4 linked regions of the Homo sapiens genome follow. The protein of the gene in region 1 interacts with the protein of each later gene in a pairwise test. Each region holds a gene or a part of one and is shown in the gene's direction. Other genes may lie near its edges.

Region 1 (7,030 bases):
AAGTAGCTGATTAGAAACAGCTTAGGAGAAAATAAGTGATTTGAAATATAGATCCGAAATAATTACTCAGAATATGGAACAGAGAAGGAAGATGGAAAAACAGAGAGGTTAGACACATGCATGCTTAATAAAGGAAGAAGATCCAATATTTATTACATGGGAGTTTAGGATAAAAGATGATAGAGGCTGGTTATGGTGGCTCACACCTATAATCCTAGCACTTAAGGAGGCTGAGGCAGGCAGGTCACTTGAGCTCAGGAGAGTTTGAGACCAGCCTAGGCAACATGGTGAAACCCCATCTCTATGAAAAAATTTAGCTAGGTGTGATAATGTGTGTCTTTGGTCCCAGTTACCTGGGGGTCTGAGGTGGGAGAATGGCTTGAGCCCAGAAAGTTGAGTTTGCAGTGAGCAGTGATAATGCCGCTGCACTCCAGCCTGGGTGAGAGAGCAAGACCCTGTCTCCAAAAAAAAAAAAAAAAAAAAAGAGGAAGACAAAAAAAAAAAAAAGGTGATGATAGAAGAAAGACAATATTCAAATGCATAATGGTTGATAATTCTCCAGAATCAGTAGAAGTTATTGAACCCTTAAGCTGAGGTATCCCAGCAAATACCATACAAGATAATAAAAAAATCTTTAGACATGTTGTTGTTCAGCTACTGAACAATAAAGCAAAGAAAATACCACAAAGTTAAAAGACAAATGACCTGCATGGTGTTAGATTAACAGAGGAAAAAAGTTTGATCAATATCTATTTATGATAAAAGCTCTTAGAGTTGGATTTGAAGGAAATTTATTTAATCTGATAAAGGATGGGTACCAAAACCAAAAACATAAAAAAAGCAAATCTTGTATCATTCTCTCTAAGTTCAAGAATGAGGCAAGGATGTCCATTGTGACTACTTCTAGTCAGCTCAATAAGACAAGAAGGAAAAATACAGGGTATAGGGATTGAAATGAAGGTAGCAAAATTGTCAATATTTATTGATTATATGCTTGTCTACATAGGAAAAGGAAAGAATCTTGAGATCATAGGCATTTCTGTACACCAAACACAATTTTGAAGAGATGCAGTTAAAATGCAACAAAGATTATTGGGTTTCTAGGAATATATCTAAGAAAAGATAGTAAGACCTTTATTGAGAGAATTATAAAAATTTATGGAAAAAATTTTGAAAGCTTAAACAAATGGAAAAGACAATATACTCATGGATAGAGAGACTGAATATTCTAAAGATGTAAGTCATTCCCTCCGATTTATAAAGTCAATACAATCTTAATAAAAACCCCAGTTGGTTTTTATATTGAATTTGATAAAAGTTGCATGGAAGACCAAAAGACCAAGAGGAGCCACGTTACTCTTTGAAGAACAAAAAGGTGAGAGGAGGACACTTGGCCTACTAGATACCAAACTTATTTTAAAAGCTATAGGAGTTACTAAAGTGGACAAGTGCGACGGGATGGAGAGCACAGTACATTTGGACCAACAGAAGCGGCATTGCAGATCAATGGAGAGCCCTGTCATTCTCCAGAGTAGGAAATCAATAATAATATATCATAGTGAAAGTTCAAGAAATAACAGTATTATCATGTTGTTTAGAAATGTAAAGGTAAACACTGAAAAAGCTAAAAATGTTGAAAATGATTGCCTTTGGGGAAAGCAAATTGGGATGGGCTAGCAAGGAACAGATAACTACATTTTTTTAAAAATAATAAATCTTTAGAAACTGTGTTTTTTTTAAATTAATTAATTAATTATTTTTTGAAACAATCTCACTCCAGTTGCCCAGGCTGGAGTGCAGTGGCGCTGTCACAGCTCACTGTGGCCTCGACTTCCTGGGCTCCCGTGATTCTTTCACCTCAGCATCCTAAGTAGCTGGAAATACAAGTGTGTGCCACTGTGCCTGGCTAATTTTTGCATTTTTAGTGGATATGGGGTTTGGCCATGTTGCCCTGGCTGGTCTTGAACTCCTGAACTCAAGCAATTTGCCTGCCTTGGCCTCCCAAAGTGCCGGGATGATAGGTGTGAACCACTGTGCCCAGCCTAGAAACTATGTTTTTAAACTGGTAACATAAATAACTTTGAAAAGTGAAAAAATTTAATTAAAAATGTGATACTGTATCTTATAAAAGCATTTTTTAAAAGTAATAATCTTGTCTGTTAGTACGTCTAACATACTTTTTAGCTTTATCTTCCTGCTATTGTAACCCATGGTTAGGCCAACTCAGATATACAGAACATATTGAAATTTACATATAATTTGATTTTTTTTTTTTACTGTAAAACCTTTTGACAGTGTTCAAGCTGTTTTTAATTCTGATGTTTAAAATAAGTTGTCATTTGATAGTTTTATATTGTATACTTCTAGTCCTTACTCAGTTTGAAATTATTTCATTGACTCCTAAGCTTAACCTTCCTTAGTATTGAGTTGGTACTGTTTTAAGAAAGGTGTTACCAATCTTAGTACATTTTTTACCTTTTTTAAAATAAACAAAGGGTTTGATATAGATAGTAGCTGTGTTCTCATTTGTTCTGGGGATGCATTATCTGGAGTCGTACAGTCTTACTTGTGCTTTAAGAGGATCATTAACAAACTAAATGGGACCCAGAAAAGGAAGAAGTAGGATGATGTTGGCCGTGATAATTGTGGATGTGCTTAATATATTTAACTTGGAGAATAGAACACTAAGGAGGATCAGCTGTCTTTCAAACATTTGATGGGATACCGTGTAAAATAGGGAACTTGTACGGTGTTGTCTGAAAGTACAGTAAAAACCAATAGAGGGAGCTACAGAGCAACAAGTTTTGCTCAGTGTGAGAAAGCACTTTCTGGGAACTGGTGATACCTAGCAATGCAGGAAGCTGGCCCTGAACCATAGAGCTCCTTTTCTCTGCAGCTACTTACATATAAGCTAGAGATCCACCTGTGAAATTCCTGAGAAATGGCTTCTTCATCAGTGAAAGTTGACCTCTAAGGTCTTTTAAAATTTCTCAGATTATTTTGCGACATTGAGATAGTTGCTTAGCTTTGAAGTATTTTGTGTTTTTCAGACCAGTGAATGGAGGCTAAGCTATGTCAATAAGGAATTTGCTGTCTGTCCCTCTTACCCACCAATTGTCACAGTGCCCAAATCCATCGATGATGAAGCTCTTCGGAAGGTAGCTACATTTCGACATGGAGGGCGCTTCCCAGTACTAAGCTATTACCACAAAAAAAATGGGATGGTAAGTGCACAGCACTACTGCTTGATGTACTGAAAGGCTTGGGTTGGGGATCTTTTCGTAGAAATGTTCCCTTTTGCTCTCTGTCTGTTCACTGAAATGATTGTCCAGGTCTCCACCACAAGGGCTTCCTTCATGTAAGCTTTAGGGAATCAGGAGTAGGGTGTTTTCTGTGGTGAGGATGTGATGCTGAATTCTTTCCATGATCCTGCTCAGCCGTATAAAAGCCCTGATAGCTTTATCTCCAGGACACTATACAAAGGAAACTAGTGTTTATTTGATGCTTACAGCAACATTCTTCTGGTAGAAAAATGAGAAATTTCTCTGTTCAGAATAATGGTAAAATACTTGAATTTTTCTTAACAACTTTACACGTGAAAGGTGGAGCAGACGTATTTATTTTCAAAGGTGAAAAGAGTGATGCTCATGTCATTTAGTCACAACTCTAGTAAACACTGGAGTCAGGATTAAACAAGGAGTTAAGATAACTACCTTGTAATGGTGGCGTCTTGAAAGAACTCTAAACCATTCGCCAGGGAAGAGATTAGTATAATAGACATTGATTTCTAGAGAAAAGTTTCAAAAGCAAACATTTCCAGATGTATAGTTGGTGGGGTAGTTTTTAGAAACAAGTAGTTAAATCCTTGAATACTGAAAAGGATGGTAGAGGCCACTGGAGAATACATAATAGACAGTCAGCTTCTGAGGTAGTGAAAATGATTTCCCAAACAATGAGAACAGTGTTTGAACTTTTAAATTTTGCCACTGGTGCCTTTACTTCTTATAATTGTTGTTAAAACCTGCCAACTCTATGTATGTTTAGTTGAAGTCAAGGTTTACTGGCTCATAGGCCATTATTGTCTTTATTACAGGTCCAGGTCTACAGGTATTTGATTCACACACTAAATGAATTGCAATATTTGATCTTAAAGAGGAGATATAATTTATTATGTGACAGTATTTTGAGACAGAGAAATTGTGTAAAAGCTTAAGGCTTATCTTTTATAGTTATTAACTATTGTCAATACATGCAAATATTTCTTTGTTTATGGATCAAATCCATCTGCAGAGTGTCACACAATTGTTTTTGAGATACTCTTAATCTAGCTAATTTCTTTCTGTTTTCAGAAACTTTAAAAGCAACTGCTGTTGAATTTTCAGCTTTATTATGCTTCTAGGTAATTATGCGAAGTGGTCAGCCACTCACTGGTACAAACGGGAGGAGGTGCAAGGAGGACGAGAAGCTGATAAATGCTACCCTCAGGGCTGGAAAGCGTGGCTACATCATTGACACCCGATCCCTGAACGTGGCTCAGCAAACTAGAGCCAAAGGAGGTGGCTTTGAACAAGAAGCTCATTATCCTCAGTGGAGGCGAATTCATAAGTCCATTGAGAGGTAAAAGATTCCAAAGATAGTACAGACTCTTATTAGAAGCTAATTATAGTGGGTAAGGCCTTAGCCATTTGAAAATCACAAGTGCTCAAATTAACTTCTGCATTAATTTAGGGTCAATGATGGGCTAGCCATCTTCTCATTTTTTTTTGGTCAGCTCTATTAAGGTTTGATTGACAAATAAAAATTACATGTATTTGTGATGTACACTGTGCTATTTTGATATACATATACATTGTGAACTGATTAAGTGAATTAACCTATCACGTCGCATAGTTATCATTTTTTTGGATGGTGAGAACATTTAATATCTATTCTCTTAGCAGTTTTCAAGCATACAATATATTAGTTTTAACTACAGTTACCATGCTGTACAATAGACCTACAGAACTAATTCCTCCTAAGTGAAACTTTGTTGTTACCTTTGATCAACATGTCCCCATATCTGTGTCCCTCCTACCCCGACCCCTCCTGCTACTTTCTCTTCCTCTGGCAACCACCATTCTACTCTCTGTTTCTATGAGTTTAACTTGTTTAGATTCCACATATAAGTGAGTTCATGCAGTGTTTATCTTTCTGTGCATGGGTGCCTGACTTATTTCATATAGCATGATGTCATCCAGGTTCATCTGTGCTATTGCAAATGACAGGCTTCCCCTCTTTTTTATTTTTATTTTATTTTTTTGGGATGGAGTCTTGCTCTGTCAGCCAGGCTGGAGTGCAGTGGCACGATCCCAGCTCACTGCAATCTCTGCCTCCCAGGTTCAAGTGATTCTCCTGTCTCAGCTTCCCAAGTAGCTGGGACTACAGGTGCCTGCTACCACGCCTGGCTAATTTTTGTATTTTTAGCAGAGACCAGGTTTTGCCATGTTGGTCAGGCTGGTCTCGAACTCCTGACCTCAAGTGATCCTCCTGCCTCGGCCCCTCAAAGTGTTGAAATTACAGGCATGAGCCACTGTGCCTGGCCTACCCTCTTTTTTAAGGCTGAATAGTATTTTATTGTGTATTGTACCACATTTTCTTAATCCATTCATCCATTGACGTGCATTTAGGTTGAATCCATATCTTGACTATTGTGAATAGTGCTGCAGTGAACGTGGGAATGCAGATACCTCTTTGAGATCCTGATTTCGTTTCCGATATTCAAAATATTTACCCAGAAGTGGGATTACTGGATCTTATTGCAGTTTCATCTTTAATGTTTTGAGGAGCCTCCATACTGTTTTCCACAGTGGCCATACTAATTTACATTCCCACCAGCATTGTACAGGGGTTCCCTTTTGTCCATATTCTCAACAACAGTTGTTAAATCTTGTCTTTTTAGTAATAGCCATTCTAACAGGGGTGAGGTGATATCTCATTGTGGTTTTGAATTTCATTTCTCTGTTGATGAGTGATGCAGAGCATTTTTTTTTTCAAATACCTATTGGCCATTTATATGTCTTCTTTTGAGAAATGTCTGTTCAGGTCTTGCCCATTCTTTAATCAGGTTTTGTGTTTTCTTGCTGTTGAGTTGAGTTTCTTACATATTTTGGATATTAACCCCTTATCCAGTGTGGTGTTCACAAATGTTTTCTCCCATTCCATAGGTTGTCTCTTTACTCTGTTGATTGTTTTGCTGTGCAAAACTTGTTAGTTTGTTCAGTCTCATTTGTCTATTTTTGCTTTTGTTGCCTCTGCTTTTGAGGTCATATCCAAAATAACTTTTCCCAGACCAATGTCAAGAAGCTTTTTCCTTATGTTTTCCTCTAATGATTTTTACAGTTTCAGGCCTTATGTTTAAGTCTTTAATCTACTTTGAGTTGATTTTTGAGTATGGTGTGAGGTAAGGGTTGAGTTTCTTCTGCATGTGCATACCCAGTTTTTCCACCACCACTCATGGGAGAAGCTCCTTTCCCCATTGTATGTTCTCGGCAACTTTTTCAAACATCAATTTACCATAAATGCATGGATTTATTTCTGGGTTTTATTCTGTTCCATTAGTCAATGTGTCTGTTTTTATGCCAGTGCCAAGCTGTTTTGATTACTTTAGCTTTGTAGCATATTTTAAAATCAGGTACTGCGTGAGGCCATCAGGACCAGGGCTTTTCTTTGATGGGAGGTCTTTTTAATCTCCTTACTCATTATTGGTCTGTTCATATTTTCTTTCTTCATGACTCAGTCTTGGTAGGTTGTATGCTTCTAGGAATTTATCCATTTCTTCTAGATTATCCAGTCAATTTGTTAATGTGTAATTGTTCACAGTAGTCTCTTATGATCCCTTGTATTTCTGTGATATCAGTTGTAATATCTCATCTTTATTTCTGATTGTATGCATTTGCATTGTTTTTCTCTCTGTTTTTAGTGAAAGAACCTTCAGCTAAAGGTTTGTTAGTTTTATCTTTCTTTTTGAACAGCCAGCCTTTGTGTTTGATAG
Region 2 (7,030 bases), on another chromosome or scaffold:
TTCTGATAGGTGGAACTGCATCAGACTGTTCCAGTTACTTTCCTAATACATTGATAATCATTAGGGAACTTGTAAACTGAATAAGTAGCTAATTTCTGTTAGTATCAGTGATACTATTTGTGGTGCTAAATGCTATCTCTCAGCTTCTGATGAACCAAGAGTGAATATATTAAGTTTTTAGCTCTTATAATACTGTTTAGTATTTGTATACATTCAGTAGATCTACTGTTGAGCAAGCCATGAAAATAACTTACTGGATTATATCATTGACTTAGGTTGGGCCTGATCCTCAGGCCAGATGAGAGAAGGAATGGGGAGGCAACTGAAACCATGCCCTCTGTTGCTGAGCTGCCTGGGTTCAAATCCTGCCTCTGTCACTTGAGCTTTAATTTGTTGCTTCTATTTCTTCATCTGCAAAGCTTTGTCATCTGCATGCATCCAATGCCAGCAGGGCTGGGTTCTGGTCTTGTATTGTGGCACAAGAAAATACCCCTATTTTGGTGACTGAAAGCAACACCCATTCTGTTATATCTCATGACTTTGTGAGTCAGGAATCCTAGAAGGGCTTGGCCAGAGGCCTCTTCTGCTCTGTGTGGTGTAGATAGGGATTTCTCAGTGAATGTGGCCAGAGGATCCAAGATAACTTCTCTTGCATACCTGGTGTCTTGATGGAATGGTTGGAAGGCTGGACTCACCTGGACTCCTTAGCATCCCCATCTGGATACTCCAGGAGGGTGGTTGAATTTCTTACATGGACACTCAGGGTTCCAGGAGCGAAAGGCAGAACCGTTCAGCCTTCTTAAGGGTGAGACCTGGCACTGGCACAGCGACTCTGTTGCTGAAAGCAGTCACAAGCCAACCCAGATGCAAGACTCAAAGAACTTGCAGTCATCTTTAATCTGCCACAGGGGATCATTTGGGTTGGGAGGATGGCTTGGGAGGACAAGTCAGCAGTTCTTTTACTACCTGTGCCAGCTTCAGCATACTGGTGAATTTCAAGTCTCATTACCTCCATTTTACAGATGAGGACACTGAGGCTTAGAAGGGTCACATGACTTGCCCAGCCCCTAGAGATACAGATACACATCTGCTTATTGGGCCTTCTGAAAGGTTCCACATAAAAAGAAATTTGTTGGGTTATTTTCCAAGCTTATGGGACAATGGAACACTTTTTTTTCAGAGAGTCCCTATTAATAACCCATGACACATTAAACCTTGGAGTTGGGCAGTTTGCTCCCCTTGTTTTGATCCTGTGCTCTTCATCACTGGCAGTGTGGTTTCTGATGTAGGCCTGCCTCAGAGGAAAGAGTCTCCCAGTGATGCTGTTGTGAGCATTTTGATCAGGGTGACAACAGCATTTCTTAATGTGAATTAGTACATGATGTGCTACAGGGCGATTCATATTGTTTATGTTCTTTTGTTTGTTCTTTGTTCTGTTTTGTTTTTGTTGGTTGGTTGATGTCATGTCACAAGGAAATGTGTAGAATGTTTTCATAAGACATTAAATCCTAGTTTAAAATTTAGAGATGCCAGAACCAAAGTTGTCACCCTTTAACAGGGTGACAGGCTTCATGCTCTATTCTCTCAAATAATTCATTCTCTGAGGGGTCTAGATAGCTAAGATTTAAATTCTCTAGGTATAAATAAAATTCAAAAGTAACCTTCAGGGTAGCACATTTCAAAGAACGTAGCCTGAAACTCTGTATAATTTTTTGTTTTTGGAGACAGAGTCTTACTGTGTTCCCCAGACTGGAGTGCAGTGGTGCGATCTTGGCTCGCTGCAACCTCTGTCTCGGGGATTCAGGGGGTTCTCATGCCTCAGCCTCCCAAGTAGCTGGAATTATAGGCATGCGCCACTATACCTGGCTAATTTTTTGTATTTTTAGTAGAGGTAGGGTTTTGCCATGTTGGCCAGGCTGGTCTTGAACTCCTGACCTCAAGTGATCCACCCGCCTCAGCCTCCCAAAATGCTGGGATTGCAGGCATGAGCCACTGTGCCCAGTTTGAAACTACTTTCTAAGCGCATTTTCAGATTCTCTCTCAAAGATTTACCAGTGATTTATAGTGACAGCTCCTGCCAGCTAGGATGATGAAGAGCACCTGAAAAAATGGTTAATATTTTTACTTAGGCCAGTGTGAATAAAATAAGAATTCCTTGAAATCACTGGAGCTGTATTTCTGTGTGATCCTGGAATTCCTTCTAATCTGGTTAGGTTTGGTTATATTCTGGAAACAGCTTTGTTGCTTGAGTAGTGAGGACAAGAAAGGATTTTCACCCGAAGAGAAGAAATCACATAAGGAAATTCCAGGACAGACAGGAATCGCTTTTGAGCTGTCTCCCTCTACTCCCCATAACCTTGGCATTAACCTGCCGTCCTTCAGACAAGAAGCATGTGTAGACTGTTTCACACATGCAGTAATTTCTTTCCTGTTGAACGTCAGTGTAGAAAGTGAACCTGCATCTGGTTTTTCAGGTCGGTAAATAACCAATATTGCAAAAAGGTGATTGGCGGGATGGTGTGGAACCCAGCCATGCGGAGATCCTTATCAGTGGAGCACTTAGAAACCAAGAGTCTGCCTTCTCGTTCCCCTCCCATTACTCCCAACTGGTATGTCCTCCTTTTTTTTTTTTTTGTACTACCCAACAGTAGACACTTTATCTCTTTTAAAAATAAAAACTCAACTTATAAACTCCTAAAGATAGATGACCTACAATTTGCATTTTAGGCTCTTGGCAGAAGTAACTGTTTTCATGAAGTACACAAGTCTAGCTAAATGTTTTCCATCGTGTATAATGCTGAGATGCTCTTTTTAAAAAAACTTATTCAATCTAAATAGTTTGGGAAACTCGAGCCTGCTGAAAGGCCTCCTTTGGAATCACAGCACACATTAGCATATTAAACACTCTGAGACGTCCAATAATAAAAAAGTACGGTTAGCTTTACTTAATTCATGTTTTCCATTAATATCCCACAAAATAAACTTTAGGGAAAACTAACGCAGGTACGTGATGTAAATGATGTAAGGATGTATGACCTTCAGCAGCAGAAGCAAATGCACATCAGTAAGTAGCAGGCCAACTTAAGAGGATGGACTCAGCTTAAAAAGAAATAGGTGGTCGTTTGGTAAAGTGAGAAGGGCACTGGGTTTGTAGCAGAAAGACCTAAACTCAGGTTTTGGCCCTTCTGTTAATTAACAAGTTTCTTTACCTCTGTAGCCTCAGTTTCCCCATATCTAAAAAGATGATAAAAACTACCGCAAATGAAATAATAATGTACAAGTACGTAGTAAGCTTTTAAAAGAGTCAGGTGGAATTATCATTATCTTATTATAATGGTCCTCAAAGACATCACACCATTTTTGTGAATACCTCCAAAAAGGCTAGGGGCCAGAGGGGAAACCTAGCAGGGAATCATTGCCCCCAGCTCCACACTGGAGTAAGAGTGCGTGGCTGTAAATACCTGATCCAGGATCTGCTAAGCCTAAGAGAAACTGGGAGACAGGCAGACAGAGGAGATGCTGTGCTGGGCCTGCTAGGGAAGGACCCCTTCACTGGGGGCCTAATGCTCTGGGAAGGGACAGTGATAGTATTTAGTGTTAGAAATCATGACGTAACTGAATAGATTTGCTTCTTGGTTTCCAACATTTAGATACCTCATTCTAAAGAGGTAAATTTATGCTATAACACAGCAGCTTAATTTATCTGAAAATCTCATCGGCAGCAATGCCAGGGGCCCAGAGAGCCCAGGACTGGATCCAGGGGAACAGCGGGGTTGGATGTTGCCACACTCGTGGCCCGGAGCTCCTGTGGCTATTTATAGGTCCTCTCCTGAGGAGTCACAAGAGCCTTTTTACTTCTGCTTTGGACACAGCATTATTGATTATCCAGGCCCAGGGGGATTGCAAATCATGGAGGCCCTGACAGTCCTGAGGAGAAATGGCTAACAAAGAAAGGGAAGATGGAAAAACTGTGAGGGAAAATAGAACTTAGAAAGCTTGGCAGCTTGGGATCCCCCGCTGCAGGAGCTGACGCCCAGGTGCCACACTGGATGCCCTGAGAACACGGCCTCATTGGATTCATTCTCAGGAGCAGGTAAGTACAGCCGAGGCCCAGAGAGGTGACGTGCCTTGCCCAAGGTCACATGCCTACTGCCACTGTTGGAGGACAGTCCAGTGTTTATATGCCCATCTAATGCATATAAACGTGTTTAATAAGGGATATATCTTAAAAAGCAAACATTTTCTCTTGGATCAAGTGAAATTCACATGAAGGGATGTCGTTGAAATAAGGTTGGAGTTTTGCTGAGAAATGTAGTTTGGCTTCTAACCCTTTTGTTTGCATTGTTCAAATTAATCAGAAAAATTATCTGAATAGCAGTCCATATGGCCTATTTATGTTTTGAGAGCTTGAGTCCTCCTGGAAGAATAACTTACCCTTAAGTCAATACCCGTCACTTCCCAAAGGGCATAAACCCATCTAATTCTGCCTGTTTATACAGCTGAGGCTACTGTTTTGGGAGCCACCACTTGACTGAGAGTGTTAGGGATTTGTGTCACCCTTGGTGCCTTCTGCTGGGGTAGTAATGAGTTAACCGGCTCTGAATGTCAGCCTCCGCCAAGGAAGGCATCCTTAGAAAGGTCAGGACACGAGGTTCACTGGTGTCTAATAAAATTTTTAAGTGGAATTTGCTTTGAACACTTTGCACTCAACGTTTTTCCCACCCAGGCGAAGTCCTCGGCTCCGGCACGAAATCCGAAAGCCACGCCACTCTTCTGCAGATAACCTTGCAAATGAAATGACCTACATCACGGAAACGGAAGATGTATTTTACACGTACAAGGGCTCTCTGGCCCCTCAAGACAGCGATTCTGAAGTTTCTCAGAACCGAAGCCCGCACCAAGAGTAAGAAACTCGTGTTGTTTTATTTCTGGGTATTTGCTTTTTGGCTGTTGCGGAATTTGCTCAGGTCCAGGTTGCCATTTGAGAGGAACCAAGAGCTGGTGCCTGCAGCCAGCTCCCACAGGTGCCTTCTGCCAGGATAAGAACATAAATCAGACTCTACCTTTTCACCCGGAAGACGGTCTATGTGCCTGGGGTCTAGAGCTTGTACTTCTTTTTGTCCACGACAAAGACTTCCTAGTCACTAAGTACTTGTTAGTCTCTTGAATTAGTCTCCTCTCCAGCTCACAAGCAAAGCCCAGTTTAATCATTCCCTGTTCTGGAGGTACAGACTCTAGGGCCATGCTAACTCTGATTTCTCTAGATTATTAAAGTTTTACCATCACATGATTTCAAATCATTGGAAATATGCTTGCTTCTAAAAGCCTTCTCCGAACAACAGGGTTCTGAGGGGTTTTGTTTTCAATTAATAGTTAGTATAAAGAAACAAACGTTAGAACATCTCTAATTTTCTTTGAGAAATTTTTTGTTAAATTTTTATGTCCTACCTCCCCCACCCCGCTTTTTTAACGTGACAGAGTTCCCTCATAGCTCAAGGACAGAAAAAATGTCTGTCCTGAAAGATGGTTGAGTGCTTTTGTTATTCAATAGGATATATTTAACCCATTTGTTTCCCTTTTTGCCTTGGTTACCAGGGAGTTCAGAACTGCACATTAGGCTCAATTGTATTCACTTCCCTCAGCCCAGATTTCTTGTATAGGACCTTCTCTTCCTCATTTGCCTTTGTTATATGGGTCTTTTTTTTCTTATTTTAATGGATTCATAGTTACATATCTGTACGTTTTGGGGTAAACTCGCAAATCATTTTTTTAAGTAGGTAAGACATAGATTATAAATTAGGTTAAAGCATGATAGTAAAGGATCAACTGTTAGGAAATCAACCATAGTCATTGGGTATCTATTCTGTTAAGCCCCATACTATTTCTAAAATATAGTAAGATAATGGCCCCCCTAACAGCTGAGGATTAGCAAGCAGGCACGTTAGTTAATCTGTAAATTTTTTACCACTGTAGCTATTAGGCTGAAAGCATCAAATGCACCCTGATTGGACTCCAGGCATTTGCAGGTGAATTGCAAATCTCCTTCCCATTTGTATGTGAGGCTGCTACCTCTCCTCTGTCCTTGCCCACAGCAAACATGGTTTCCAGTTTATCTGTGTTCTTAACACCTCTGGTTAAATAATCCCTGTGGTCATTCTTTCCTTGTGACCTGAGCTTGGATGATGCTTTTGCTAAATGATTGCTATCTCTTGTTCCAACTTGCAGCCTGCTGCCCCTTTGTCAGGGCTACAGTGGATGATTGTGAGTTCCTTTGTGTGACTTTGTAGCTTTTCAAACCACAAGCACATCTAGAAATACAAAGCAGGAGTGCAGGCATGCGTGACTAGAGCCGTTTTGAGTCTGCAGTGGGGGCTCTGCGGCTTTGGCAAAAGGAGAAAACGGTTTAGGGAAGCGTTGGAGGGCTCTGGGAAGCCCACTCACACCTGCTGCGTCAGAGCTTCCTGTGGTGGTTTGCAGTCCCATCACAGAATTGTACAGCATCTAAACCTTCCCTGTCCAGTACAGCAGCCACCAGCCCCAGTTGTCTATTCAGATTTAAATTAATTAAAATAATAAAAATGTAGGCATTCAGTTCCTCAGTCACATGAGCCTCATTTGAATTGCTTGACAGCCACACAGGAGTGTTGGCCTCCATCTTGGACAGCACAGATACAGCCCATTCCCATCACTGCAGAAAGTGTTGTCAGCAGCACTCATCTAGACTAACACGTTTATTCCATCGTTCATTTAAAGGGTGAACCCCTAGAATATCTACAAGCGAAAAGTGCATTTTTCACACAGAATTCATGTGGGAGTAGGTTTGGAATCATCACCTTGCTTGCAGTCTGGGCGCTCCACACCACTCACCCAGCTGCTCATCTGTGGCATGGGGCAGGTGGATAGCCTCTGAGTGCCCTCACAGCCCAGCACCCTCTGTCTCTTTATGCAATCAGTGCCAGGTGGGGAGGGATGCATTCTGTCCAATGACATGCAGGCACTTTAGAGGGCTTGCATTCATTCCCAAGTCCAG
Region 3 (5,319 bases), on another chromosome or scaffold:
TAGCTACTGTTGTGGCATCCAGAGTGCCTCCCTACACTCCCATTTCGCCCCTCTTGACAGCCCCATGACAGAAGAGTGTCATTATCCTTTCGCAGAAGAGGAAAGAGTTTCCAAGAAGTTAAGAGGCACTCTGGGCAGGTGGAAAGGACATGGACCTGGGGGCTGGATAGATGGTCTGGGTTTGAAACTTAGCACTGCCATTTATTAAACCTGTGATCCATGGCCAGGCACCTAATATCTCTGGTCCAGTTTCCCAGCCTATATGATGGGAAGAGTTCATGGTATCTCCCCAGGGGAGTTATTGAAGAACAGAGCCATGGTTCATATTTGGCCTAGAGGCATTCAGTGAATGGAGTTTCTTTTTTTTTCTCTTGCCAAAATCACCCAAAGGAGAGGCAGAGCCAGCCTGGGCATCTGACCCTTGCTGGAGCTGGGGTGAGCAGGGGCCTTGAGCTCTGGGGTCCAGCCCCTCTGCCTTCTGCCTTCCCCTCTCCTCAGGTCCTGGGGAGTCAGAGAAGGTGCAGCAGCTGGAGGAACAGGTGCAGAGCCTGACCAAGGAGCTGCAAGGCCTGCGGGGCGTCCTGCAAGGACTGAGCGGGCGCCTGGCAGAGGATGTGCAGAGGGCTGTGGAGACGGCCTTCAACGGGAGGCAGCAGCCAGCTGACGCGGCTGCCCGCCCTGGGGTGCATGAAACCCTCAATGAGATCCAGCACCAGCTGCAGCTCCTGGACACCCGCGTCTCCACCCACGACCAGGAGCTGGGTCACCTCAACAACCATCATGGCGGCAGCAGCAGCAGTGGGGGCAGCAGGGCCCCAGCCCCAGCCTCAGCCCCTCCGGGCCCCAGTGAGGAGCTGCTGCGGCAGCTGGAGCAGCGGTTGCAGGAGTCCTGCTCCGTGTGCCTGGCCGGGCTAGATGGCTTCCGCCGGCAGCAGCAGGAGGACAGGGAGCGGCTGCGAGCGATGGAGAAGCTGCTGGCCTCGGTGGAGGAGCGGCAACGGCACCTCGCAGGGCTGGCGGTGGGCCGCAGGCCCCCTCAGGAATGCTGCTCTCCAGAGCTGGGCCGGCGACTGGCAGAGCTGGAGCGCAGGCTGGATGTCGTGGCCGGCTCAGTGACAGTGCTGAGTGGGCGGCGAGGCACAGAGCTGGGAGGAGCCGCGGGGCAGGGAGGCCACCCCCCAGGCTACACCAGCTTGGCCTCCCGCCTGTCTCGCCTGGAGGACCGCTTCAACTCCACCCTGGGCCCTTCGGAGGAGCAGGAGGAGAGCTGGCCTGGGGCTCCTGGGGGGCTGAGCCACTGGCTGCCTGCTGCCCGGGGCCGACTAGAGCAGTTGGGGGGGCTGCTGGCCAATGTGAGCGGGGAGCTGGGGGGGCGGTTGGATCTGTTGGAGGAGCAGGTGGCAGGGGCCATGCAGGCATGCGGGCAGCTCTGCTCTGGGGCCCCTGGGGAGCAGGACTCTCAAGTCAGCGAGATCCTCAGTGCCTTGGAGCGCAGGGTGCTGGACAGTGAGGGGCAGCTGCGGCTGGTGGGCTCCGGCCTGCACACGGTGGAAGCAGCGGGGGAGGCCCGGCAGGCCACGCTGGAGGGATTACAAGAGGTTGTGGGCCGGCTCCAGGATCGTGTGGATGCCCAGGATGAGACAGCTGCAGAGTTCACACTACGGCTGAATCTCACTGCGGCCCGGCTAGGCCAACTGGAGGGGCTGCTGCAGGCCCATGGGGATGAGGGCTGTGGGGCCTGTGGCGGAGTCCAAGAGGAACTAGGCCGCCTTCGGGATGGTGTGGAGCGCTGCTCCTGCCCCCTGTTGCCTCCTCGGGGTCCTGGGGCTGGTCCAGGTGTTGGGGGCCCAAGCCGTGGGCCCCTGGACGGCTTCAGCGTGTTTGGGGGCAGCTCAGGCTCAGCCCTGCAGGCCCTGCAAGGAGAGCTCTCTGAGGTTATTCTCAGCTTCAGCTCCCTCAATGACTCACTGAATGAGCTCCAGACCACTGTGGAGGGCCAGGGCGCTGATCTGGCTGACCTGGGGGCAACCAAGGACCGTATCATTTCTGAGATTAACAGGCTGCAGCAGGAGGCCACAGAGCATGCTACAGAGAGTGAAGAGCGCTTCCGAGGCCTAGAGGAGGGACAAGCACAGGCCGGCCAGTGCCCCAGCTTAGAGGGGCGATTGGGCCGTCTTGAGGGTGTCTGTGAACGGTTGGACACTGTGGCTGGGGGACTGCAGGGCCTGCGCGAGGGCCTTTCCAGACACGTGGCTGGGCTCTGGGCTGGGCTCCGGGAAACCAACACCACCAGCCAGATGCAGGCAGCCCTGCTGGAGAAGCTGGTCGGGGGACAGGCGGGCCTGGGCAGGCGGCTGGGTGCCCTTAACAGCTCCCTGCAGCTCCTGGAGGACCGTCTGCACCAGCTCAGCCTGAAGGACCTCACTGGTGAGGGGACAAAAGGCATGAGGGGACCCCTTTCAAGCCCCTTATTTTTCTTCTCCCTCCCCCAGCCCAGCTTCCAACTCATCTGCTTTCTCCTTGCTTTTCCCAACATGAATTGCAGCCCCAGCCAGTATTCCAGGTGTTATAGTTTGCCTGCAAGAGATGATGCAAGGTCCTAGCTCCCGCCCTCCCTCTGGCTGCTCACTAGGCCTGTGGGTGGAGAGAGGATGTTGCTCTGCCAGCCAGGGATCCAGCATATGCAGCAAGGGACCCCATGGCCCCCTCAGCCTGCAAAGCTCCACCTGTTCCATCCATCTTCTCCCTGTTCATGAAGCCACCACCCACCTTCCTTACCCATTGGAAACTCCTTTTATGGCCCTCCTTCAACTCAATTTTGTCACTGTAGGGCCTGCAGGAGAGGCTGGGCCCCCAGGGCCTCCTGGGCTGCAGGGACCCCCAGGCCCTGCTGGACCTCCAGGATCACCAGGCAAGGACGGGCAAGAGGGCCCCATCGGGCCACCAGGTATGTGCACTGAGACCCTTGCTGCAGTCAGGGTTGCCACTGCCCCCTCCAACCCTGACCCCCGCTGGCAGCCCCAGGCTTGACATTCCACTCTGAACTTGACAAGGGGAATTGGGTACTACCTGACCGATAAGGGAAAATCAGAGGAAAGTGAGGAGGAACTGTGATAGTCACTGTGTTTGGTTAATGGGTATTAGGAGGCTAATGGATAATGTTGGCCCCACTGCAGTACTGGAGACTAAAGCTGAGTCTATTATAGCTGTCTGGGGTGTGAAAGGCTGGGATGGCCCAGCAGTTGAACAGAATGGACCCTACCTATTCCTGTTTTTCTTGATACCCCAATTCCTGCTTTGAAGTCCACGTAGCACCGAGCACAACAGGAGAGCCTCAGCAGATGTTTGCTGAGTGACTTAGTGAGAGCTGCTTTATTTCTCACTGCTCCCTTTCCTCTTCTCACAGGTCCTCAAGGTGAACAGGGTGAGTGCCTTTCATTTGATTCTGGAGGGAGAAGTGACTAGGGGTTGGAGGATAGAGGTCCTCGGGCAGCCCTGGGCTGGGGATCCAGCAGGGGAAGGGGGCTGGCACTCTGCCCTGAGCATCCCCTTTAACATCCACCCTTCCCACTCAGGAGTGGAGGGGGCACCAGCAGCCCCTGTGCCCCAAGTGGCATTTTCAGCTGCTCTGAGTTTGCCCCGGTCTGAACCAGGCACGGTCCCCTTCGACAGAGTCCTGCTCAATGATGGAGGCTATTATGATCCAGAGACAGGTAGTCCTGGGAGGGGCTGGGTTGAACGGTTGGAGAAATGGGTGAGGTGTGCAGTGATATCTTCCCATTCTTGCCTTTTCCGACAGTGTGAATCTTCATTCTCTGATTTGGGGAGACCCCGGCTCTTTCTTCATTTATTCATTCTCAGGCAGTGGGGAGAAGAAGTAGTCATTCATTCATTCAGCAGATCTTTACTGGGGCCTGCTCCTGCCCAGGCACTGTTTTAAGTGCTGGGAATGCATAGTGAACAAAGCCCCCAGTTCCCTGCCGCTCACATTCCAGTGAGGTGAAAAGACCCAGAGGGTCCCTCCTCAGTCCAGGAGTTCTGGTGCGCTCCCCGGAGCTTCCCTGGCCCCCCTGACTGCTATCCTTGTCCCCAGGCGTGTTCACAGCGCCACTGGCTGGACGCTACTTGCTGAGCGCGGTGCTGACTGGGCACCGGCACGAGAAAGTGGAGGCCGTGCTGTCCCGCTCCAACCAGGGCGTGGCCCGCGTAGACTCCGGTGGCTACGAGCCTGAGGGCCTGGAGAATAAGCCGGTGGCCGAGAGCCAGCCCAGCCCGGGCACCCTGGGCGTCTTCAGCCTCATCCTGCCGCTGCAGGCCGGGGACACGGTCTGCGTCGACCTGGTCATGGGGCAGCTGGCGCACTCGGAGGAGCCGCTCACCATCTTCAGCGGGGCCCTGCTCTATGGGGACCCAGAGCTTGAACACGCGTAGACTGGGGTCCCGCCCGACGTGTCTACGTCGGCTGAAGAGACAGCGGGGGCGGCGGGCTCCTGGGGTCTCGCCTGAGACGGGGCACCTAGCCCTGGGCGAGCGCCGCACCCGGGCCCGCAGCGGCACCGCGCCCAGAGCGGCCTCTCCCCACGCCCGGGGCGCGCCGGCTCAGGGAGGCTCGGGGCCGCCCATGCAGACTTTTGGCCTGGCGCGATCCCCCAAGAACCCCTCCAGGGCCGGCCTGCGGAGGAGCCGATCCTCGCACCCTCCGCTCCCTCCACTGGCCCTCCAGGTCGATTCCCTGGGCTCCAGGCTCCCCCGCGCGGGCGCCGCCCACCGCCATACTAAACGATCGAGGAATAAAGACACTTGGTTTTTCTAAAAAAAACTAAACGAACCGTTCTGCTACGGTACGGGGTCGGGGGCTGCCGGGCGTGCACAGGGCACGGGGCGGGAGAGACGACGGCCTCCGGAGAGGACCCCGGGTTCCGCACTGCGTTCGCCGCCTCCGCCCGGCTCGGGGCGGCTCGGGGTTGGCTCAGGCAGCAAGCGGCGCCCGCCCGGCTCCTGCGACGTCTCCCCCGTGTCACGCCCGTTTCGCCGGCGTCCGCCAGGGGGCGCTCTGCGTTCCCGCCACGTGAGGCTGCGGCCCACCCGGCGGGTCCTGCTCCTCCGCGGCGGAGGCGTGGCCTCGGCTGGGACTAACCGGGGCGGGGCGGGGCGGGGCGGGGCGGGGCCGCCGCGACCGCGGGCTTCAGGCAGGGCTGCAGATGCGAGGCCCAGCTGTACCTCGCGTGTCCCGGGTCGGGAGTCGGAGACGCAGGTGCAGGAGAGTGCGGGGCAAGTAGCGCATTTTCTCTTTGCATTCTCGAGATCGCTTAGCCGCGC
Region 4 (7,030 bases), on another chromosome or scaffold:
TGAATAGCAAGGTCTTAGCGCACAGGTGTCAACATTGGGCCTGGGAGGCTTTAAAAATGCTGAAATCAGAGTGGGCCTCACAGCAGCTGATTCAGTCACCCTGGGGTGTGGCCCGGGCTGAGGAGGTTTTGAAAGCTCTCCAGGCGATGGTGTTGGAAGGGGCGGAAAGCTGCCTTCGAGCCTCAGCCTGGCAAGCAGCACCTGCCAGCCAGACCTTGAGGAAAGGGGAGCAGCTCTGTCCCACGGATTCAGATGTCACTGGAAAGGCAGAACGAGGAGGCACCTGGTCTTGTAGGTTCAGGCCAGCCTTGGAGCTGCCCTCCACCCATCCCTGCCTAATGCAGCCGGAACTTCGTCTGCGGCTGCTTTTCTGAACTCTTGGCGTCCTGTTTCTCCTCCTGCACCCCAAAATTAACGCAGTCCTGCCCGTGGCTGGCATTGTCACCAGGCCTTGCAAACACCTCTGTCGGACTTTGCCCAACCTCCCTGGAAACACACCAGGGGTTTTGGAAGGACTGCAGTGGTAAAGGTTGTGGCGCTCCCTGGGACACTGATTCGGAGTGTGGTTGTGTGCAGCTGAGCGTTTGGCGGTGGGTGAAGCCACGTGGACTGATGACTGTGGACCTACACCTGCAGGGATGGCCGTGGGCCTGCGTGTGTGTGTCAGCGTGGCTGGGAGCAGGCTGGTGGTACTGGCAGCCGCTTCCACGTGGGTGAGGGGAGGGCCTCTGTCTGCAACATCCCTCATCAGTTCCCCCTGGATCCCAGCCCGGGGAGGGGGAGAGGGAAGGGGGGCTCAGCTTCCCAGGACCCTAAGCTGCTCCTGGGAGAAGAGAAGGATCCCAGTATCCGGTCAGAGGCTGCAGGAAGCGCTTGCCTCTCCCTGGCCCAGGGCTGACTCCGCCTCTCTTTTCTGCAGATTTTCCGCCGTGCGGACAAAAATGGTGAGTTTCCCTTCCAGGCCGACGGCCGCCCCACTCCTTCTGTCCTCGTGCTTCATGGGGAAGGGATCAGGGATAGGAGACAAGCGCAACCTTGAACCTAAAGGTTTGGAGTGCAGGGGTCTGAAGTTAGAAGGCCAAATCCTGCTGCTGCTCTGTGCCTTGACCTCCCTGTCTGTAAAACGGGAATCCTAGTAGGGCCTACTTAGTAGGGACAGCTCCACTCAAGGGCTCAGTGAGTCTTGTCTGTGATGCCAAGAACAATGACTGGCCGTGGTAAGGGCTGGGTGTACTTTAGGCCTTTTCCTAGCTGGGCTGGACCAGAGGAGCCCGGGCTGGGGCCCAGAAACCCTCCTTGAAAGGAAGCCGCCAGCCTCACGCTAGGCCCTTCACAAGCCTTGGTGCAGTTCTTCATCGTAGCAACCTGAGCAGTCAGTGCTCTTGCCTCTGTTGACACCATAGCAGCCCAGAGAGGTTAAGCAATTTGCCCCAGGGTTGCCCAGCTGCATGAAGGAAACGGAGGCTCTCCTGAAGACCGGGGCCCTTTTCCCTTTCTCTCTCAGCCTCTTTAAAAATGTGAGCAGCGCCTTGTTGTGGCCACGGAATTCATAGCGCTCCACTTCTCCCGACTCCTTGGAGGGGCTTCACTTGCAGAAGGAGCCCAGGCCTTGAGAGAATAAGCACGTTTAGGCGGCCCAGCTGAGCCTCGGCTGACAAAAAGCACCTTCTTAAAAATACCAGAATCATTATTACAGTTGCAACGCAACTCACCGTGGACTTGAACCAAGACAGATTCCCTCTCTGGGCCTTGGTTTTCCCGTGGGTAAAGTGGGGCAATAACACTTGCCCTGCCTCCTTCCCTGGGTTTTGGGGAAAAGCCAGAGAGGCGGTGTGGGTGACAAATGTTTTTAAAGAGAATCGCGTGCTCCCGGTATGTTCATTCATTGAGAAAATGCACATCAAGTACCAAGCCTGTGGCAGGGGAAGAGCACGCAACAGAGACCCTGTGACCTGCCCCAGGGCCCTTGGTCCCCAACGCCTCTGGCCCCGGTTCCTCTCCTGCACAAGCTGCAGTTGAGGGTGGCAGCTCTGGCCTGGGTCTCCAGCACCCGCCTCATCCCTGGGAGTTCCTGTTGACGGCTCCCACCCAGGGCGGTTGCAGGGTGGAGTTGGAGGCCTTGGGCATGGTGGGAGGGCAGGTGCACAGGCCTGGGCTGGAATCAGTTCCAACGAGTCTCCCACCCTGGCCTCCTGCATCCCTGGGGGGTGACAGTGACCACTCCCAGGCCTCTGGGGAAGAAGGACCATCAGCAGTGATTCCATACGGAGCAGAGGAGGAATAAGAGGGACGTAGGGAGATGAAGTGGCTCTGGAAAAACAGCCGTAGCATCATGGCCTGAAAAGCCTTGGAGATGAGGAGGGGAAATCAGGGGGCTGTCCCTGAGATGGGGTCGCCGGAGCCCTCAGCGTCATTGCCTGTGTGCTGGCCTGGCTCCTCCAGCAGGTTGAGAGGTAGGGATTTGGGTTTGTCCCTTGTCCCGGGCCTGATACCCAGCACACAGTAGGTCCTCGGTAAATGTCTGTAGACTTGGTGGACGTGTTTGTTGGTGAGAGCGTGGCTGTGCGTATCTCGGTGACTCAGCAGCGTGAGGCTGTTGGGAATGCGTGTGTCCAGCGTGGGCCTCTAGCCATGGCTGTGCATCCCGAGTGTGTGTGCAGTTAGTGTGCGTGTGTGGCTTCCTGAGTGTGCAGCTCTGCAGGAGCCACTGCAGTGTATACACTTGGGCAGGTGGTGCCTGGCCCCCTCGGGCACAGATGGGGTTCTGTCCTTGCTGCAGGCTCCCCCCATCAGAGGCCATGTGTCCACCCCCTGAGCACAGCTGTGGGACTCTCAGTTTCCTTACTGCAGCCTCCTCAAAGGCCGAGCCTGTTCCTTCTCCTTGGGGCTTACATCTTACCAGCCACCACTATGTGACCGTTAGGGGCTGTCACCAGGGTGAATGTGGGTGTGAGATGCGGGTTCCAGCAAGAGCTTCCCAGGTCCCCCAGCCTGACTGCCTAGGCTCAAGTCCTGGCTCAGCCGCGTACCGGCTCTGGCCTCAGGCAAGTCACCAAATTCTGCAGTCTCAGTTTCCTTATCTGTAAATGGGAATAATTACAGCACCCACCTCAGAGGGCTGTCTGAGGATAGATAGTTGCTCTCCTGGCTTCGCTCATTGAAGATATCAATAAGTCCCCGCTGCTCTGCCTCAAATGCCTCGGAAATGGGAGTCCGCAGGTGTGGCTTGTCCAGAGGGGTTTGATTCCTCTGTGCTCAGCAGGGAATTCGGTCTGGGGGAGGCTGCCAGCAGTCACTGAACGTCTGTTATGCACCAGGACTTGAATGTGCTTTTTCCTTTAATCTTCATTGTGATCCTCCTGAGACAAGAAGTATCAACCCCCACCCTCCTTCCAGATGACGAAAACAAGGCTCGGAGATGGCACGTGATATTCTTCACATGGTCGGGGGGCAGCGGTGCAGGCAGGTTCTGATTCAACACAGCAGCTTAAAAGCTTGTAGGAGTGGGGATGGGACTTGGTGTGGGTATAGATAGGGGAGTGGTGTGGGAATAGAATGGCTGGGGAAAGAGGAATGAGTGTAGGGGTGAGAATAGGTGTCAAGGAGGTGTGGATCCAAGAATGAGAGCAGGTGTGCAGGGAGGTGTGGGTGCAGGGATGAGAGCAGGTGTGCAGGGAGGCGTGGGTGCGGGGATGGGAACAGGTGTGCAGGGAGGTGTGGGTGCAGGGATGGGAACAGGTGTGCAGGGAGGTGTGGGTGCGGGAATGTGAACCGGTGTGCAGGGATGAGAGCAGGTGTGCAGGGAGGTGTGCAGGGATGAGAGCAGGTGTGCAGGGAGGTGTGGGTGCAGGGATGAGAACAGGTGTGCAGGGATGAGAGCAGGTGTGCAGGGAGGTGTGCAGGGATGAGAGCAGGTGTGCAGGGAGGTGTGGGTGCAGGGATGGGAACAGGTGTGCAGGGAGGTGTTGGTGCGGGGATGGGAACAGGTGTGCAGGGAGGTGTTGGTGCGGGAATGTGAACCGGTGTGCAGGGAGGCGTGGGTGCGGGGATGGGAACAGGTGTGCAGGGATGAGAGCAGGTGTGCAGGGAGGTGTGGGTGCGGGGATGGGAACAGGTGTGCAGGGATGAGAACAGGTGTGCAGGGGGTGCAGATGTGGAGGCCGATAGGCCCACAAGCACACACAGGACTGCTCAACACTGACGCTAGCCCTGCCTCACGTGTCCACAGGAAGGATGGATGGGATGCCTCAGGGGAGCGGGAGATGGGGTGCAAACTCAAAGGACCCCCCAGGCTGCCCTTAGGACTTAGAGATTACAGGAACAAAGGCTCAGGGCTGCCCTGTCAGGGTGGCTCCTGTGACAGAGACTTGTTTGGCTGAGCTGGATACCGGATGCCCAGTCCCTATGGGAAGGTTAGCATGAGGGGCCTGACTGGCAGCCTGGGACATAAACTCAGGGGGTGGCAGAGGGCTGAGTGGCAGACAGCATTTCCCTTCAGGGACATGGACGCTGACAGGCTGACAGGCTCTTGGCATTTGAAAGGTCATGGAGACAGAGAGTGAGTTTGTGCTAATTAGCAAAGACACCTGCAAACGGCCCGCTTGGGGTCTCTGGCAAAAGTGCCAGCGCGGGCCCGCTTGGCCTGTCTAATTGGACTGGGGGCCTACGTAGGGCATGTTTTTTCCTCATTAGTGAATTCATTAGGGCCGTGATCAGGCGTTCAGGATAAATGTCAGCCGAAAGCTTAGTGAGGGGGCACCTTGCTGGCCTCTGTCTGCCTGCTCTCCCTGTGTGCCGAGGGGGCACCTTGCTGGTCTCTGGCTGCCTGCTCTCCCTGTGTGCAGAGGGGGCCCAAGGTACCTGGACAGGCACGTGGGGAGATGAGCCAGCCAGAGGGAGGCTGGGATTGGGGCTCACAACCCCTGTCATGCCCATGGTGACTGCCCCTCACCCAAAGTGGGGGTGCCTGAGCCAGCACCCACCCCCTGCTGGGTAGGTGGCGATGTCGCCACAAGATCCTACCCCTGGATTAGGTTGAGAGCCTGGACTTGGGAGCCAGATGGCCTGGGTTCAAGCTTCAGCTGTAGGACCTAGGCAAGTACCCTAAGGGCTCTGTGCCTCAGTTTACCCCTCTCTAACATGGAAGTGGTAGTACTACCTGTGTCGTGAGTGTTAAGAAGACTAAAGGAGTGAGTCCGTGGAAGGTACTCCACGTGTGGTGTGACTCCACACTGGGATTCCTGGGTTTTATCTTCAGGCTTGCCGAAGACACTCGGAAGGCATCCTCTGTCACAGAACACAGAAAGCAACAACTTCGATTTCACTTATCTCGTGGCTGACTTTGCGGACTTTTAGTTGTTAGGTTTTGGGTCTTTGGTTTGTGCATGTGTGGTTGGATTGGGGTTTTTTTGGCCTTTCCTTTGAAAGACAGAAATTCTTCCCACTGTAACCTTGAAATCTGAGCTGCGATGGGGGCATCTTGGGATATTGGCCCTAGCCCCCCGTGCCCACACGTTCATATTCTTTACCGGTCTCTGATACTTTATGCTCTATGGGGTTAAAGAGAAAAGTGGTGGCATGAAACCTTGGCAAGATCTGAGGACCCCCCCTCTCCTGAGCTTATGCTCTCACCCTGTGTTGAGCTCCAGCAGAGCTGCTGGGAGCACAGACAGAAGCACTGGAGCCTTTAAAGTTTAAGAATGACTCATTCTCAACCCAAGTACGTCTGCCATGTCGGGTTAGGCAGGTTGTGCGCTGCACAAGGGCACCCACCCGAGGAAATGGAGGGTTTCAAATCCAGGCTGCAATCCGCTTTCAACACATGTGCACTGACACTGGTCTCATCCTCTCGGCAGAGAAAGGAGAGTCTTTTTCTAATCCATAGGAAGGTGCCATGTGGACTCTCAGGGCCCTTGTCCCAAGCACCCAGCTTTGAATGCAGATCCTCTGGAAGTAATGCCAGGGGTTTATGCAGAGAGGCTGGGGGCCAGGAACTGTCATGGGCTCCCTCTTGTCTCTGACCTCCATGCCACTCACATAGTTTCTCTTAAGGAGGAACAGATCCTTGAGGAGGGGGGAGGTGGCTGCAGGGCAGGTGGGGGATGAGCTTGCTGGCATTTGCTCAGCAGGTCTGTTCAGGTGGAAGGAGCTGAGGGTGGAAGCTTAGGGACCGCCTCCCAGAGTCCCTGATGTTCTTAAGCCACCTCCCCTGGTGGCCCAATCTGATCCAAACCCACAAGACCTTCCTGGTAGGGCCAAAAGTGTCCCCAGAGCAACTGCAAGTGAAGGGAAAAGGTGAGGCGATGGGTGGGACTGGTGGCATGTGTCCCACCCATCCCTCCACAGAGCCCCTCCACAGAGGAGCTGTGGAGGCCCCTCTGTGGAGCTCCACCTCAGAAGCACAGCCTCTGGCCAGAGCGTTGGCACCTCCAGGCCTGGCACCTCCTTCCTGCATGGCTTGGCATCTAGATGGCTGCATCTGTGGCCTGGGAGAGGAGGTAACTGAGAACCTCATGCCGGCCATTGGCAGCCATCTCATGCTGCCTCAGGGAAGGACCTGAAGTTTGCCACATAGATGGGGCGGAGAAGAAAGGGTTCTTCTGTACTCTAAGAACAGTGCTGAGAGAGTCAGGGCTTAGGGGCTGGGATTGGGGTTGGGAGCATGCAGAGACCACTTGGCGTTTGGAAGCTATGGAGTGGTGGCTCATCCAGCTGCTGGTTTTTGGATCCACTTCATACCGATGGTGTGACATGGGACAAGTTGCTCACAGTGGGTTATCTTAAATAGCACCTGCCTCCAGGTGGCCATGTAAATTGAGAGAAAATTCACTGGCAGGGGGCAGATACTCTATATTTGTTGAACGCATGGAAAATGTTGAGTGCATGGTGAGCCCAAGAAAGCTAGCTATTGCATTATTGTTAGTTTGAGGATTATCTGTAAACAGGCATTGGTCTGGGAATTAGCTGGATGAGGCATGATTCTCTGTGTACTGGAGTTTACTGGTTAGTGTGGGAATTAGCTGGGTGGGTA

The links.
Region 2: the proteins of MTMR9 (region 1) and PTPN3 interact in binary tests that used the Homo sapiens proteins (3 or more experiments, as listed by UniProt).
Region 3: the proteins of MTMR9 (region 1) and EMILIN1 interact in binary tests that used the Homo sapiens proteins (3 or more experiments, as listed by UniProt).
Region 4: the proteins of MTMR9 (region 1) and NECAB2 interact in binary tests that used the Homo sapiens proteins (3 or more experiments, as listed by UniProt).

Annotation. Positions count from the first base shown.
Region 1 is NC_000008.11:11,301,791-11,308,820, forward strand, and holds part of MTMR9 (myotubularin-related protein 9), read left to right. Parts: intron 1-3,050; coding exon 3,051-3,224; intron 3,225-4,399; coding exon 4,400-4,617; intron 4,618-7,030. UniProt on the Homo sapiens protein: Acts as an adapter for myotubularin-related phosphatases. Increases lipid phosphatase MTMR6 catalytic activity, specifically towards phosphatidylinositol 3,5-bisphosphate and MTMR6 binding affinity for phosphorylated phosphatidylinositols.
Region 2 is NC_000009.12:109,418,297-109,425,326, reverse strand, and holds part of PTPN3 (tyrosine-protein phosphatase non-receptor type 3), read left to right. Parts: intron 1-2,474; coding exon 2,475-2,609; intron 2,610-3,841; exon of another isoform or gene 3,842-4,093; intron 4,094-4,726; coding exon 4,727-4,903; intron 4,904-7,030.
Region 3 is NC_000002.12:27,081,585-27,086,903, forward strand, and holds the end of EMILIN1 (EMILIN-1 precursor), read left to right. Parts: intron 1-498; coding exon 499-2,427; intron 2,428-2,830; coding exon 2,831-2,947; intron 2,948-3,406; coding exon 3,407-3,424; intron 3,425-3,575; coding exon 3,576-3,713; intron 3,714-4,093; coding exon 4,094-4,431; 3' UTR 4,432-4,819; downstream 4,820-5,319. UniProt on the Homo sapiens protein: Involved in elastic and collagen fibers formation. It is required for EFEMP2 deposition into the extracellular matrix, and collagen network assembly and cross-linking via protein-lysine 6-oxidase/LOX activity.
Region 4 is NC_000016.10:83,971,232-83,978,261, forward strand, and holds part of NECAB2 (N-terminal EF-hand calcium-binding protein 2), read left to right. Parts: intron 1-919; coding exon 920-944; intron 945-7,030. UniProt on the Homo sapiens protein: May act as a signaling scaffold protein that senses intracellular calcium.